2 separate regions of the Homo sapiens genome follow, and region 2 is linked to region 1. Evidence: fine-mapped QTL for protein levels in blood plasma. A gene starts in region 1. The other region holds a variant in brackets. All regions are shown on one strand. Distances are between the middles of the regions.

The links. PIP is the chance, under the fine-mapping model, that this variant and not a neighbour inherited with it causes the effect. The UK Biobank Pharma Proteomics Project read protein levels with antibody pairs (Olink). The fine-mapping took linkage between variants from a reference panel, not from the people measured, so its PIPs are less certain.
Region 2: its variant is fine-mapped to the plasma level of the MARCO protein (UK Biobank, PIP above 0.99).

The regions. Positions count from the first base shown.
Region 1 is chr2:118,937,273-118,945,605 of GRCh38, forward strand. It overlaps MARCO (macrophage receptor with collagenous structure), which reads left to right and starts at 4,922. Exons shown (of 17, transcript NM_006770.4): 1 at 4,922-5,125. The coding sequence starts at 5,029.
Region 2 is chr2:118,989,810-118,998,142 of GRCh38, forward strand. It overlaps MARCO (macrophage receptor with collagenous structure), which reads left to right. Exons shown (of 17, transcript NM_006770.4): 13 at 780-824; 14 at 1,968-2,066; 15 at 2,623-2,667; 16 at 3,315-3,491; 17 at 4,578-4,851. The coding sequence ends at 4,711. It overlaps LOC124906072 (a long non-coding RNA gene), which reads right to left and starts at 3,509. Exons shown (of 3, transcript XR_007087213.1): 1 at 3,262-3,509; 2 at 1,279-1,357; 3 at 398-677. RefSeq lists an enhancer at 2,588-3,787. The variant A/G (reference allele first, on the strand shown) is at 4,833.

The DNA.
Region 1 (8,333 bases):
CCCAATAATGAGAAGCAGACAAACTGGGAAAGAAGGGAATTTATTGCTGTAACCGGATTCAGGGAGAAGGCCAGAGATAATTCCACCAGACAAACCCAGAGTGTTACCATTTTCTTAGTGCTCATATAGTTGGTGTTATGTGCCTACATGCAGTATCGCATTCACTTAAGTCTATTGGTAACTAATTTTGTTTCAGCTATAAGGTCAGAGGCAAAAAATGCTTGCTAAGTCCAACGAAAAGGGCCCCAGTACCTTCAAGGCCTGTCTACTGTGGTACCGGAGTGATTATTTCTATGTTATCTCCTTTACAGCTTGGTCCAGAGAGCTACCTTAGGCTCTCCAATGAATCTATTCAAACACTGCCTCTGTTACCTTTACTCATCTAAAATTTTGTCAACCTGAGACGAAGTGCTGGCACTAGGAATGTAAGACTGTCTCTATTATTTTGTTTGCTCTAGGTTAGGGAGAAGACTATGCAAGGCTCCTACTGACCATGTTTCATTTCTAGCTTTGATGTCTAGGCATTATTTCCCTAGGCTTAACTATTTGCTCAATGTTAAGGCAGCTCTGTGGAAATTTGTCTGTGTAACTAGGGTGCTATGCAGGCCTGTCTGTGTGACGGTCATGCCTGCTTGTCTGTGTGGTTGTCAGGGAGAATTGACCTGCCACACTAGCATGTGTAAGGATCCTCATCAGGCAAGAAAAAGTGTGGGTGGCCAGTCCACACCTGTTACTGGGAGGCTGGCACTGTCACCTCATTCCAATAGCTCTCAAAAGACAAACCTCTGTGAGTTGGGCCAAGGTTCAACAACAATAATTCCTTTTTGTCCTTTAACTTCTGTTTTAATTAACTTTATTGAGGCATGATTTACATGCCATAAAATGCACATACTTCAAGTGTAAAGTTTAGTGACTTTTGTAACTAACACCCCAAACAAGATACAGAAAACTTTCATTTCCTTAGAAGTTTCCTTTGTGCTCCACTCTGGTAGAGTCCCCCTTACTCCCACCCCAGGACCCAATGGCTCTGTTTGCTGACCCTTTGAATGAGTTTTGCTTGTTCTAGAAGCCTGTATAAATGGGATCATACCGTATGTCCTGTCTGAAGTCTAGCTTCTTTTGCTCAGCATAATGGGTTCTGAGATTCATTCATGTGGCATATTTCATTTTACTGCAGACTAGTATTCCATTGCATAGATAGGACACAATTCATTCGCCTGTTCACGGTCATTTGTGTTGTTAATTTTCTCTAATTTTTAAATGATCAACACTTCTTGAGCTTCATTAACTACCAGGAACTTACGTAAGCCTGGGCACTCACAACTGGCAGGAAAAATGAAGTCAATAGATAGAACTTTTAAATGTTTCTCTCTGATACATTCCCTTCAGTCCAGTCTCTCCATCCCTTCCGCTGGTGGGCATAGGCAGATGACTGAGCAGATGTGTGGAAGGGACTCCAGAGAGGTCCCCAAGGCTCGGTTCACCTGTCTGCTGTGGATTGGTTGGTTGGTTTCGGACACATGGGTTTGTGCCGGTAATTTTTATATCATGCGTTAACTTGGTTGCCCCAGTTTTAAGCTGGAATTGGGTTGCTCAAGGGTTCTTCTTGGTGATCTGCCAGGCAGCCCACTGACTGAACTAATTTGGAACCCACCAGCTGATAGGAAATCAAGCTCCATGGAGACCATCAAGAGTGGTCACACTTGCCTGGAACTCCAGCCCCACCACTCCTGTGTGATAAAGCACTGGGAGCCACTTGACCATCACTTCAGAGAATATCAGAACTTGATGTAACTACATTGGGCATTGAGCCCTCCCCAAATGCACATTTAAATACTCCAATCCAATTATATGCATGCTGCTAGACAAATAAAGCCAGACCCTGCATTTCTTGGACAACTTGTCTCCAAATGCAACTTCACCTGGGAAGAAACTGCTGGATCTGTGTTCCTGGAGATAAAAGTGTCTGAGTAAGACTTCAGAAGAGACTGTACCATATTTCCTAAATTGTGTGTTTTGTATTTATAGAAGATTTAAAGGATTTTTAAGGGATTCATTGACAGTGCAGGAGTTTCGTATGACACGCTCTTTTGATATAAAATGCTATTCTGCATATAGAACTTTTGTTTACAAATGTACTTACTCATTTATTATTTTATTTGATCCACACATCCACTCTATGGGTAAACACGGCAACTCTGGGCATCCCATTTTGTAATGGGGATGCTGAAACACAGAGCTAATGAGAGGGCCAGGACTAGGGTAAGCAAATGAGGAGGGTCATTGTACGTGCAAAGTGGGATTCTGTCTTCCTTTAAAATGATGATATTTTGTTCATCGCAGAATTTTTGCATTAACTTTGATTTTTTAAATATATTGCACTAAAATATTATTTATCTTGATTATTGAATCTTTTGTACTCAAGGCTAGTGAATTATTTGCTTCATCCTAATCCCTGAGTCTCAGGCCCTGCAAGGTGAATGGATTAGCTTGAGTCATATAAAGTATCCATTTATTGCATATGAAAAACAGATAAATATCTGTCATTCCATATGATTCAACCTAATGGATCCTCCTAGGATGGAGTCAGGAGGCCACACTGCACATGAGTGCTTCAATTATACCACTCGGTGGTCCTAAGCCTGGTGCACATTAGAGCTCTTTCTGAAATTTTTATTAAAACCAGAGCCTCAGGTTTGGGATGGGAAACTGGCATTCCTCTACTGCAAACCTCTGGATTGGAACCCCTGGATTAAACCAGAATTAAATCAGTCTATAGATTGAGGCAGAGAGTCTGGATTCAAATTCTGGTGTAGCTCTTTATAACCACACAATTTAAGGCAAGTTGCAAGTTATGAGTGTTGAGCAATGTATGCAAATGTTTAGCACAGTGTCTGGCATTAACAGTAAATCCTGGATAGGAATTAATGCTTGCACAAGCCATTACTCTGTGTGGAAGTTCAGAGAAGTAAGTCAACCAAGGTCACACAGAAAGTTAATGAAAGAGTTGAATTTGGGACCCAAGTCTCTCTGGTCTCTAGCCAGAGGTGAAGTGACTACACTTGACATCCACTAAGTGCTTCCTTTAAGAACAGGGATCCTCAATAATTAGCCCATGACATTTTCTAATAAGTCCCCTCCCCACACCCATGAGAATCAAAGATGAGCTGACCAGGCAGAGGCAGAGGGAGAGCAGGGAGCTCTGCCAGGCTAAGTGAGCGGGTTCCTTTGCCTAGGGGACTGCCCTCCAGTGGGCAAATCCCCTGTGTCCTCAATTATCTGGTCCTGTCTACCCCCCAGACTCTAGCTGGAGCCATCACTTCCTCATTTCCAATTTTCCTCTTTAAATTTTTCTGTCCTGGCTTCTGCTGCTTGTCCTCTGGCGGAACCAGTGACTTCCTGAATGTTGAAATTGTGGGCGCCACGGGGGACCTCTGCTTTTCAGGGCACTGCTAGGAGCTCACTTTCCTGAGTTTCATCCCCTTTCACTTTCTGACATACCACGGGCCAAAGAAAGTGACTTCGCCTGGCACAGCTTCACTTCCTGCCACCTGTCTTCCTCACCTCTTACATTTCAAATAGGCCAAAAGTCTACGGCTCCCCTGCTCCAGGCTGTCCCACCTCTGAGAGGCTGCACCTGCCCTCCTTCCTCCCTGGAGGGCCTTTGCCTCATCTTGATCTGGATCAATCCCCCATTATCCTTTTAAGCCCAGCTCTGGTATCTGATATCTCTTGATTCAGATGATAAAGCTATTTGTCATATTTCTGCCCTGTCTCCCCTGCCTCCCGGCACTTCTGTCTTTTCAGGGACATCAACCTTTGCCGCACTTCACAGCAATTTTCTGGAATGTAGTTGTAGCCGCAACCATCTTGCATGGTAGACTGTGAATATCTTTCATGAAAAAAGGCCATTTCTTCATCTCCTCGGTGCCCAGCAGGCTCACAATGTCTCTAATGATAATAACAACAACATGACCATAGTGTTTATTACCTAATACTTCCATCCTAGCCACCTTATATGATTTAATTCATTTAAGGCTCACGAAATTCATATCTTCCTTATTTATACAAACAGAAGAGTGAGATGCTCAAAGCTCAAGTGATTTGCCTACTGCCAGACAGCCCCTATGTGGAAGAGGTGGAATTTGAAGCCAGGCATTCTAGCTCTTAGTGTCTGTGTCTTAACCACCATGCTATACAGCATCCCTGGTAGAGATGCCTGACGGGAGGGAGAGAGGGGAGAAGCTACTTTCCTTAAGGAGCTCAGATCTCACTGGGGCCTGGACAAGGACACCTGTAACACATGTACACATGTGCACACATGTGTACACACACAGAGAGAGAACATGGGAAAACTACAAGAAGAAATACTAAGTGCTAAAATGTGTGGTTCAGAGCAAGGCTTCTCAAACTGTAATGTGTATATAAATCACCTGGGGATCTAGTTAAACTGTAGATTTGGATTTGATCTGATGGGGTGGGACCAGAGACTCATTGTTAGAACAAGTGAACTTGCATTTCTAACAAGTTCTCAGGTGATACTAATACTGCTGGTCCATGGACCACACTTTGAGCAGCAAGGATGAACTCTAAAGGTTGAGGCAGGTCAGAGAAGGGAGATTTCACTGTGGGCTGGAGAGGTCCTGGGACAGAGAGCTGAGTCTGGGCCCATGGCAGGGCTTGGTTGGCCCTCTCTGGAGCCATCCAGCTTTTGGGTCTCAGGGACCTGGGAGTGACGGGTGCATTCAGAGGCCCGTAACTTGTGTCCCAAAGCCTCCTCGATCCCCCTTAACAAGCAGCAGCACTGTGTGGGAGATCCACATGTGAATAGCCCGTGTTTGAGAAATGTCCAATCCTGATCATGTCAGGAAACATCCTGCAAATTCTGAAATCAGAGCCAAAGGGAAGTGCTGCGAGGTTTACAACCAGCTGCAGTGGTTCGATGGGAAGGATCTTTCTCCAAGTGGTTCCTCTTGAGGGGAGCATTTCTGCTGGCTCCAGGACTTTGGCCATCTATAAAGCTTGGCAATGAGAAATAAGAAAATTCTCAAGGAGGACGAGCTCTTGAGTGAGACCCAACAAGCTGCTTTTCACCAAATTGCAATGGAGCCTTTCGAAATCAATGGTAAAGTACGATTCCCCAATAATGGAAATGACCAGAAATGTAGTCTTTCTGCTAGCGAGATACGAAAATAGACAAGTCAATAGAAAGTCTAGGTTTGGCTTATTGCTGCATTTTGCACGTAATCATCACTAATACTGTCTGGAGTGCTTCAATTTGGAATTTCTGGAATGCTAATAATAGATGCTGTATTTTTAGCATATAGTCAGGTTTTTCTTAGCTTCACTATTGTTTTAATCATATTTAAATATTTTCCCTTGAAAAAATGCCAATGCTTATTAAATGTCCCCTTTTTTTAATGAATGTCTTATTCTGACACACAGGTTGGGTGATACAATGAAAACGCAAAACAGGGGCACTGAAAGGGGACCACAAAACTGAAGCCAAGCATGACAGTTTTCAAAACACAGCTTCTTTAAAATTCTTTAAGGGGATTTCTGTTATAACTGATGTGCTGGTCAGGAAACATATTCTGTATTTCATGTTGACTGAAATATGTTCATAGCTTCATAATTAGTTTGTCTTAGGTTAAACTCAGGTCTGTAATATTCAGTCAACTCTGTTGTCTTTATTTTCTCACTCAGCATTCAACAGGTGATGCATTTTTAAAATCTTCTAGAATTTGTAGCATTTGAAGTCATGGGTGGGCTTGCATTCCACAAATGAGCTCTGATTTCCTAGTCTAGAACGTTCTCTTGGGATCATCTTCCAAGTTGATCAGTCATTTCCACTCCCAGGCTTTGCTGGAAGTTGTCTATGCAGGAAAATTGGTGGCTTTATCTCCTGGCCAGAGTGTCCTTCTCATCCCACACCTGTCTGCCCAGGTCCCTGCCTGGAATTTTCAGCGCACAAAGATGAAGCGTCTGGGGCTCTGCCTCTAGGAATTTACAGTGTAATAACAGAGAAAGGTGTGAGTGCTAATGGCTATAATAATCATTGGCTATTTAGAACTTCTCAGAATGCAACATTCTGGATACATGACTGTTTAAGAGACTGAAGATGTTCAAGCAAAGTCAGCTGATCAAGCATACTCAGCACCTATTTCCAGCAGGGCACTGCACTCAGCACTGAGGAAACAGGCTTGAATAAACATAGCCTCTGGCCTCTGGCTTCTGGCACGAGGGGACAGGGGACAGGGTAAGCTGCCCATGAACTGACAATTTCCATGTTGTGACTGAGACTTCCACAGGACATGATGGACAGATCTAACCAGGTGTAGAGCCCTGGAGGGCAGAGCTGACACCTCTTCCAAAGTTTAAAGGATAAAGGGAGTCCGTTAGAGAAAGAAGTTAGTGCCTGGGGCGGGGTGGGCGCCACATGTTTGTATTGTATTCACAAGAAATATTCAGAGAAATATAAATACTTCCATACTGTTTGGCCAAAATTGGGACGGAAAGACCAGTGGGGACTGAGGCTGGAACCAAAAAATTTGACTTCATCCTGAGGTCAGTGGGGAAGCAGGAAGGGGCCGATGTGGGGCTGAAAGGCACTAATGTGCATGTGAGGTTGCTCTTTGTCCTACATAGGGATGGCTGGAGAGAGAAGCTGAGGACAGAGAGGAACTTGGCAGCAAGAGATGATGAGGGGCAGTGGATGGAAGGCAGGAAAATAAAGGAATGCTCTGGAGAAACACCGGAAATCAGATCAATTGGACTGCAATGGCAGGACAGGGCTGGGGAGGAAGACGCAGGAGTTAATAGTGAACCCTAGATTTCTGACCTGGGTTGTGTGTGTCACCAATTAAAAATGTAACTAAGCCAGTGCAGGAGGATTCCTTGAGCCCAGGAATTTGAGACCAACCTGGGCAACATAGTGAGACCCTATCTCCACCAATAAATAAATAAATAAAATGTTTAAAGTATCTCACCAAAAAACCAAAACTACTCCAATTTGGATGAAAGAAACATTTTCTTATATGCATTCACAACATCCTGCCTTCTAATACAAAGATTGTGGAACATATGAAACTTTCTAGAAGAGTGCCATTATGCAGGTAATCACTGTGAGGCTCTGGTAACACAGTGACCCCTCAGGGCCGGCTCTGCACATTACTTATTTTTTGTCTGCTGAAGATTTATTTATTTAGGCCATATATAGTTTTATTTTCTTTTGAAAATACATTATCTTAAAATTCCCACATATGGTTCATGAAAAACAGCACTGAAAAATATTTCTAATGTCATTTTCCTCATTTATTTTTCTCTATTGTTGGTATTGAAATATAAAATGCTGTTTTTCCCTGATTATAAAGTATTAAACTAGTTTTTTTTTATTATTATTACCCAAGGATACTGGACTAGGAAAGTTTTCAACACATGCTGAAGAAAATTTTAGAAGTGAGTTTGGGAAACTTTTGGAATATAACCTTCATTTTTTCTAAAATTAATCTTAAAAAAAGGATGAGGAGTGTAAATTTCACACTGTACCCTCTAGAAGCACAGTGCAACTTGCATCCCTCTTTCCTGCCATCACCTCCAGCCTCCCTCATTAGAACAAGCCTCCTTCATTCCATTATCTGCACTAGAATTAAGGTACTCTTTCTTTTCTTTATTTTTTATTCTAGCTTTTTAGGAGTGTGATTAACAATACAAACTGTATATATTTATGATGTACACGTGATGATTTGATATATGTATCCATGGATGAATAACCACCACAAAGACTGCTTTAGTTTCCTGAGGGGACTTGACATAGGGTTGGCTTCTGTGGCCCTCAGGGTCTCACAGAATCCCAGGTCTCTCCTCAGAGCCATAGAAACTGCTCTTTTGCCCCATCATCCACCTCAACAATGGAACATTTGGGCTTGAACGAGAGGATTTACCTGTTGGCAATATCTTTCTGGGATGTGTCTGTTTCTACCTTTTTGAAAATTAGCAATCTGTGTCTGGCTTTAGGCTTCCTGTCACACTCCTGGCCGTCTGGTTTCTCAAGGAAGACTACTGTTACCACAGCCTAACAAGACAAGCACTTGTTAGGCTGTGCAATGTGATCTGTCGGAACCTCTTGTTTCTTTTTTTTTTTTTTTTTTTCTTTTTTGAGATGGAGTCTCGCTCTGTCACCCATGCTGGAGTGCAGGGGAGCGATCTCGGCTCAGTGCAACCTCCATCTCCCGGGTTCAAGTGATTCTCCTGACTCAGTCTCCCTAGTAGCTGGGATTACAGGTGCCCACCACCATGCCCGGCTAACTTTTATATTTTTAGTAGAGACGGGG
Region 2 (8,333 bases), 53 kb after region 1:
TTTGTGTAACTGCCTTGAGGAGTCCTATTTCTCTGAAATAAAATAAATATTGGCACTTAAAATCAAGAGGACATGATCTTGCTAAATGAACAAATTATTATCTCAGTGACCCAGCAGGATGCTGGGGACAGTGGGCCTTCCATGAAAGTTTACTGAAAAAAAAGGATGAATGGATGGAAAGAAGGAAGAAAGGGGGACCTTTAACATTAACTACAATAGGATCATCATCAATGACTGTGGTTATTATTTTTCCATTTTCTGGACATTAGACCCTTTAGCCACATGAATCTTTAGCCACTGGGAGCCACAATGAAAAAAACCAACAAATACTTGAAGAGCATCTACTATGCAGGAGGACCTCCAAAGCTCCTGGTGGCCACTGAGCCCCTCCACAGTCTTTTAGCAATAAAGATAACTTTATTTACCAAATATCTCCCAATTCTCTTCCAATATAAATGCAACAGCAGGGAATGGGATTGGATTTAGATGCCAGGTCAGGTTACCGGGGGGCAGGGAAGGCCAGTGGTGCATCTGGGGTCTGTCTAATCCAGGCTTTCATCCAGTACTTTGCCGTTTCACCCCCAACACACCTGTTCTCATTCATCTGCAGACTGTCTCTTTTCATGATCTGCTGAAGAGGCTTTAAACAATCGTGGAGAACCAATGTATCTTTCCATCTGCATTAATCAGACAAAAGGTAGAGGTTGTCTAAGATTAAAAATGTCTAATACCTAAGTTTTATTATCTCCTCCCCCCCCCCTTTTTTGTTTTGATCTTAGGACTTCAAGGACAGCAAGGAAGAAAAGGAGAATCAGGAGTTCCAGGTAAAGGGCAGGCTGCATCTTCATCCCTCGGAGTGATGACGGGGAAGGCCTGCCTTCTCAGAGGGCAGGTCTTGTTGACATTGAATGCACAGCTGTGACCTTCTCCCAAAGTGGAGGTTAAGACTCCAGGGCTCTGTCACTCAAGCCTCAGATTTCTCCGCTGCAAAACCTGGGAACCACAGGAACTCAACATCCTGAGGGGTGTAGCGTATGGGGCAGGGGCTGAGGATGGCAAAGGGGCTGAGGATGGCAAAGGGGAAAAATGTCAGGAGAGCTGGGGGTGCAGGCAGAGGCTCCAGGCTCTACAGCCGCCATGGAGCTGTGCCCCTTCTGCTCCATCCACGGCTGCTGCTTCCCCACCTCAGCTGTGGCCCACTTGTCTCTTCTTGGCCCCCAAGCTTCTCCTCTCTGCCTCCTGCTGCCTGTCACTGGGCTTTCTTATTCTTATCCTCACCTCCAGAGCCTGTGCTTCAGTTGGGTACTGAGCTGGCACCAGCTGGACGGTGTTTCTAGGCCTCTCAAGAGCCCTGCCCCTGTGAGTGCAAAAGTGAGATTTTTCAGACACATTTCTTGAGCAAGTTTTCTTCCTCATAAGCTAGATATTCTATTATGTTTTATGGTTTTTTTTTTTTTCAATTTTTTTAGAGACAAATTCTCTGTGTCACCCAGGCCCGAATGCAGTGGTGCCAGGACAGGATAGCTCACTGTAGCCTTGGCCTCCCGGGATCAAGTGATCCTCCCACCTTCGTCTCCCAAAGCTTGGGATTACAGGAGTAAGCCACTGTACTCGGCCTCTGTTACTATTTCAATTCACTAAAGGAGACATCGAGGCTTAGAAACATTCTAGCAAATTCTCCCAGCATGGCTAGAACTTCCACATAACTATGTAATTCCAGAAGGACCAAGAATCTGTGGAATACCACCAGCTATTTTAGCCTGCCTGTTCTCGACAGCATTTACCTAAGAGTTGAGAGATCAGTGCAGCCCCCAGATGGACCAAAGACAGGCTGAACATTCAGATAGCCCAGCCATGGGGGAGGTCTGGCAGTTAAGGATAACTCATTTATTAAACAGTAATGCCCTTGGGTCTCTCTTGGGAAGGCAAAGCAGGGCACCTGATCAGGGCAGTGTCTCTCCTTCCAGGCCCTGCAGGTGTGAAGGGAGAACAGGGGAGCCCAGGGCTGGCAGGTCCCAAGGGAGCCCCTGGACAAGCTGGCCAGAAGGGAGACCAGGGAGTGAAAGGTAAGGCCTCTGCATCTGATTCCTTTGTTCTTAGGACTGTGCTTTACAGCCAGTTCTGTACCTTAAAATAGGAAAGGCGCTGTTTTAAGAGTTCTGGGGATTTTCAGAACCCAGGAGGGTAGAGGTTTATTTCCTTGATTGACAAGTCTTGTGCTGGGGCTTGCCCTAGGCATGGAGCACACAGCAGCGGGTTAGGCGCAGCTCTAGCATCCAAGGCAGGGGCGTGAACATGCACTTGAGCCATGCCCCACGACCCAACACTCCTAGGCAGTTTCCATGAAGGAGATGAGCCCATCCCACTCCATATCTCTGACCAGACCAAGCATCCCTCACCAATCTAACTTCAACCCCTCTTGCTGTAGCTCAGGCCCGTTTCTTCCTGCTCAGTCATTGACACCCGCAGGACATCCCATCCCCATAATGCCAGGCCACAGGCGAGACCCACGGAGCATCTGACCACTCCCAACCCTCCACCCGCTCCCCACTCATGCAAATGCAGGCAAAGGCGTCCTGCCTGGGTTTCTTTCAAACCGTGTGGGTTTTCTCCTCATGACAGGATCTTCTGGGGAGCAAGGAGTAAAGGGAGAAAAAGGTGAAAGAGGTAATCACTATTTATATTATCTTTAATGTGTGCTTTAAAGTCAATTCTGCACCTGAAAATTGTGTGTGTTGGGGGAAGAGACCTTGGTTCTCAAATAAATTTCTCATTTTGGGGAGGAGTTGAGGGTCTAGTCCCTTGAATGAGCCTGCCCACGGCACAGAGCAGCAGTTTCTCTCCCCAGCCACTCTCTCCCTTCCTTCCTTCTCTCCCTTCCTTCCCCCTTTCTCCTTCTTCCTTTCCTTTTCTCTCTCCCTCCCTCCCTTCCTCCCCTTTCCCTTCTTTCTTTCCTCTCCATCCCTCCTTCCTTTCCCTCTCTCTCTCCATTCTTTCCTTCCTTCCTTCTCTTTTCTCAGCTTTCCTTTTTTTCTCTCCACAACACATGACAAGACGTGGTGTATGCGATTTGCAAACCAGCCACAGGGGCACCTGCCCCTGTGGCCTTGTGCCTGCAGGCCCCAGGTGCATGGAGGCTGCGTGCCAGGTTGGGTTGGCACTGTAAAGTGGGATCTTCCAGGCTCTGGTGACAGTCAAGCAGGGGCATTTCTTTTCCTTAACTGTAGAACTCCAAAATGAAAAGAAAGAGCCCGCACTTACCCAAAGCCCCAAGGGGCCTTCCTTGCCTCTCCCATGTGTGTTTCTTCACCCAGGTGAAAACTCAGTGTCCGTCAGGATTGTCGGCAGTAGTAACCGAGGCCGGGCTGAAGTTTACTACAGTGGTACCTGGGGGACAATTTGCGATGACGAGTGGCAAAATTCTGATGCCATTGTCTTCTGCCGCATGCTGGGTTACTCCAAAGGAAGGGCCCTGTACAAAGTGGGAGCTGGTAAGTGAGTCATCAGCCGGGGGCCTCTTCCCCAGAGGTGTGGATGTGGCTTTCTCTCGCTGGTGGGGTGTTGGCAAGTGACTCAGTGTGGTTTTCTTTAAAAGAAAAATATTGGTCCAAGCAACCAAAAAGCTCTGCAGTGCAGGGCTCCAGGTATGCATCCTTCCAGCTTGGCAACCCCAGCAGAAAGATGGCCTGTCTTCTCCAGCGCTGACAGTGAAGGCTGGCCTGGCTTCGGTCAAGGTCCATCCAGCCCTGGAGTCAGAATGCCACATGGCTGAGGGTGTTTGCCGCAGATGGCTCTCCAAAGGACAGCTGAGTTGATGCAACTGGAAGAACAGAGAGAAGATTCAGGGCAGGCAAACGCAGATGTTCACTCCAGCTGTCTGTGAACCAGCAGCCTGGATTGACCAGCAAGCAGTCTTGGCTGTGATCATCTTTAAAGAGAAGATGGGAAGGGAAGAGAAAGCAAATCAGAGCAGGGACTTACTAAAATGTGTGGAAAATGTCTTCGGATGCTGGAGACTCAGCCTATATCTTTCAGCCAAAAGTTCAAGCCTTGAGCAAAGAAGTTAAGTCCCCAGGCAGAACCCTTTTCTCTGGCTATAGGATCTGGCCCAGCAGGACATGAGGCCAGTTTCCCTTGCTCCCAGCCCCAAGTGCTCCCTGTCCTTACCCAAACCAAAGCAAATGCCCACTTTAGAGCAGGGCGATGGCTTGATTACAGAGGCATGTGAGGCAGGTGGACGCAGCAGGAGTGAATTTGCAGGGAGGAAACTAAAGGACACCCGCCTAGGAAGATATTTCAAATAGTGTGGGGTTTAAGCATTAAAGATTTGCATGAGACTTTTGTCAAAGGGTAGAGAATAGAACGGAGGCAAAGTCATTATAAAAACAACAACAACAACAACAACAACAACAAAAACAGGCTAAGCCAGCCATCAGCACATTGGGCCGGAATGGGCCAGAATGAGTGAGAAGTCGGCAGTCCACCTCAGATGGAAGCTCCCAGGCGCACACGTGGCTTCTTTGCTTTGACTCTAATCCTACCCTTCTTCCTCTGTCTCTTGCTTTCTCTCTATCAAGGCACTGGGCAGATCTGGCTGGATAATGTTCAGTGTCGGGGCACGGAGAGTACCCTGTGGAGCTGCACCAAGAATAGCTGGGGCCATCATGACTGCAGCCACGAGGAGGACGCAGGCGTGGAGTGCAGCGTCTGACCCGGAAACCCTTTCACTTCTCTGCTCCCGAGGTGTCCTCGGGCTCATATGTGGGAAGGCAGAGGATCTCTGAGGAGTTCCCTGGGGACAACTGAGCAGCCTCTGGAGAGGGGCCATTAAT[A/G]AAGCTCAACATCATTGGCTGTGGCTGAGTGTCACTGTGTTCATACCTCCCATCCCCATTGATGTGCCCACTCCATGCACCACAACATTTCATTGAATTCTCTCATGTCCGTAGCCAGGGGAAGGAGAGGTTGGAGGTGGTGAGGCAGAAGGTGAAGGTCACCTATGGTCAACCTTAGTCTTGACCATCTCTTCAGTCATTCAGACATAACATCTCTCATGGTGAGCTCTCTATCCCCCTTTTTGTCCTCCCCTGACAGTGACCTGGTAACATTCCAGCACACACATGAACTCTCTTCATGCCCTATGCTGTGTGCTCCACCCTGACTCCACCTGCCCAACCGGTCCTTGCTCTCTCTCAGCGCCCTGCCTGCTGGGCTAAGCCCACTCTCCATGTTGCAAACCACATAGTAAGCCTGAAATCAGTCTTAGAGTCTCATTGATCTTTCCTTCCATACATGGGTGGGATTTACAGAATGGAAATATTTATCTGGAGTGACAGTAATCAAAAAAGTTTTCTGAAGAAAGCACAATTTGAACTGGACCTTAAAGGGTGGGGAGGATGTGACCCCTTCTTGGCATGCAGTGACTGTCACTCTAGGACCTGTAGGTATAAAAGGCTTCGTTTTCCTGAGCCTCTCCTGTGTCCCTTCTTGTGGCAACAACTCACTAACCATCTACTGAAAGAACAAAGAACACTAGGTATCAGCTTGTTTTTTTTTTTAAGTTTTAGGGTACATGTGCACAACGTGCAGGTTTGTTACATATGTATACATGTGCCATGTTGGTGTGCTGCACCCATTAACTCATCATTTAGCATTAGGTATATCTCCTAATGCTATCCCTCCCCCCTCCCCCCACCCCACAACAGCCCCTGGTGTGTGATGTTCCCCTTCCTGTGTCCATGTGTTCTCATTGTTCAATTCCCACATATGAGTGAGGACATGTGGTGTTTGGTTTTTTGTCCTTGCAATAGTTTGCTGAGAATGATGGTTTCCAGCTTCATCCATGTCCCTACAAAGGACATGAACTCATCCTTTTTTATGGATGTGTAGTATTCCATGGTGTATATGTGCCACATTTTCTTAATCCAGTCTATTGTTGTTGCACATTTGGGTTGGTTCCAAGTCTTTGCTGTTGTGAATAATGCCACAATAAACATATGTGTGCATGTGTCTTTATAGCAGCATGATTTATAATCCTTTGGGTATATACCCAGTAATGGGATGGCTGGGTCAAATGGTATTTCTAGTTCTAGATCCCTGAGGAATCACCACACTGACTTCCACAATGGTTGAACTAGTTTACAGTCCCACCAACAGTGTAAAAGTGTTCCTAATTCTCCACATCCTCTCCAGCACCTGTTGTTTCCTGACTTTTTAATGATCGCCATTCTAACTGGTGTGAGATAGTATCTCACTGTGGTTTTGATTTGCATTTCTCTGATGGCCAGTGATGATGAGCATTTTTTCATGTGTCTTTTGGCTGCATAAATGTCTTCTTTTGAGAAGTGTCTGTTCATATCCTTTACCTACTTTTTGATGGGGTTGTTTGTTTTTTTCTTGTAAATTTGAGTTCATTGTAGATTCTGGATACTAGCCCTTTGTCAGATGGTTAGATTGCAGAAATTTTCTCCCATTCTGTAGCTTGCCAGTTCACTATGATGGTAGTTTCTTTTGCTGTGCAGAAGCTCTTTAGTTTAATTAGATGCCATTTGTCAATTTTGGCTTTTGTTGCCGTTGCTTTTGGTGTTTTAGACATGAAGTCCTTGCCCATGCCTATGTCCTGAATGGTATTGCCTAGGTTTTCTTCTAGGGTTTTTATGGTTTTAGGTCTAACGTTTAAGTCTTTAATCCATCTTGAATTGATTTTTGTATAAGGTATAAAGAAGGGATCCAGTTTCAGCTTTCTACATATGGCTAGCCAGTTTTCCCAGCAAAATTTATTAATAGAGAATCCTTTCCCCATTGCTTGTTTTTCTCAGGTTTGTCAAAGATCAGATAGTTGTAGATACGCAGCATTATTTCTGAGGGCTCTGTTCTGTTCCATTGGTCTATATCTCTGTTTTGGTACCAGTACCATGCTGTTTTGGTTACTGTAGCCTTGCAGTATAGTTTGAAGTCAGGTAGCGTGATGCCTCCAACTTTGTTCTTTTGGCTTAGGATTGACTTGACAATGCGGGCTCTTTTTTGGTTCCACATGAACTTTAAAGTAGTTTTTCCCAATTCTGTGAAGAAAGTCATTGGTAGCTTGATGGGGATGGCATTGAATCTATAAATTACCTTGGGCAGTATGGCTATTTTCATGATATTGATTCTTCCTAACCATGAGCATGGAATGTTCTTCCATTTGTTTGTATCCTCTTTTATTTCCTTGAGCAGTGGTTTGTAGTTCTCCTTGAAGAGGTCCTTCACATCCCTTGTAAGTTGGATTCCTAGGTATTTTATTCTCTTTGAAGCAATTCTGAATGGGAGTTCACTCATGATTTGGCTCTCTGTTTGTTTGTTATTGGTGTATAAGAATGCTTGTGATTTTTGTACATTGATTTTTTATCCTGAGACTTTGCTGAAGTTGCTTATCAGCTTAAGGAGATTTTGGGCTGAGACAATGGGGTTTTCTAGATATACAATCATGTCGTCTGCAAACAGGGACAATTTGACTTCCTCTTTTCCTATTTGAATACCCTTTATTTCCTTCACCTGCCTGATTGACCTGGCCAGAATTTCCAACACTATGTTGAATAGGAGTGGTGAGAGAGGGCAACCCTGTCTTGTGCCAGTTTTCAAAGGGAATGCTTCCAGTTTTTGCCCATTCAGTATGATATTGGCTGTGGGTTTGTCATAGATAGCTCTTATTATTTTGAGATACATCCCATTGATACCTAATTTATCGAGAGTTTTTACCATGAGGGGTTCTTGAATTTTGTCGAAGGCCTTTTCTGCATCTATTGAGATATTGAGATAATCGTGTGGTTTTTGTCATTGGTTCTGTTTATATGCTGGATTACGTTAATTGATTTGCATATGTTGAACCAGCCTTGCATCCCAGGGATGAAGCCCACTTCATCATGGTGGATAAGCTTTTTGATGTGCTGCTGGATTCGGTTTGCCAGTATTTTACTGAGGATTTTTGCATCAATGTTCATCAGGGATATTGGTCTAAAATTCTCTTTTTTTGTTGTGTCTCTGCCAGGCTTTGTTATCAGGATGACGATGGCCTCATAAAATGAGTTAGGGAGGATTCCCTCTTTTTCTATTGATTGGAATAGTTTCAGAAGGAATGGTACCAGCTCCTCCTTGTACCTCTGGTAGAATTCAGCTGTGAATCCATCTGGTCCTGGACTTTTTTTGGTTGGTAAGCTATTAATTATTGCCTCAAATTCAGAGCCTGTTATTGGACTATTCAGAGATTCAACTTCTTCCTGGTTTAGTCTTGGGAGGGTGTATGTGTCCAGGAATTTATCCATTTCTTCTAGATTTTCTAGTTTATTTGTATAGAGGTG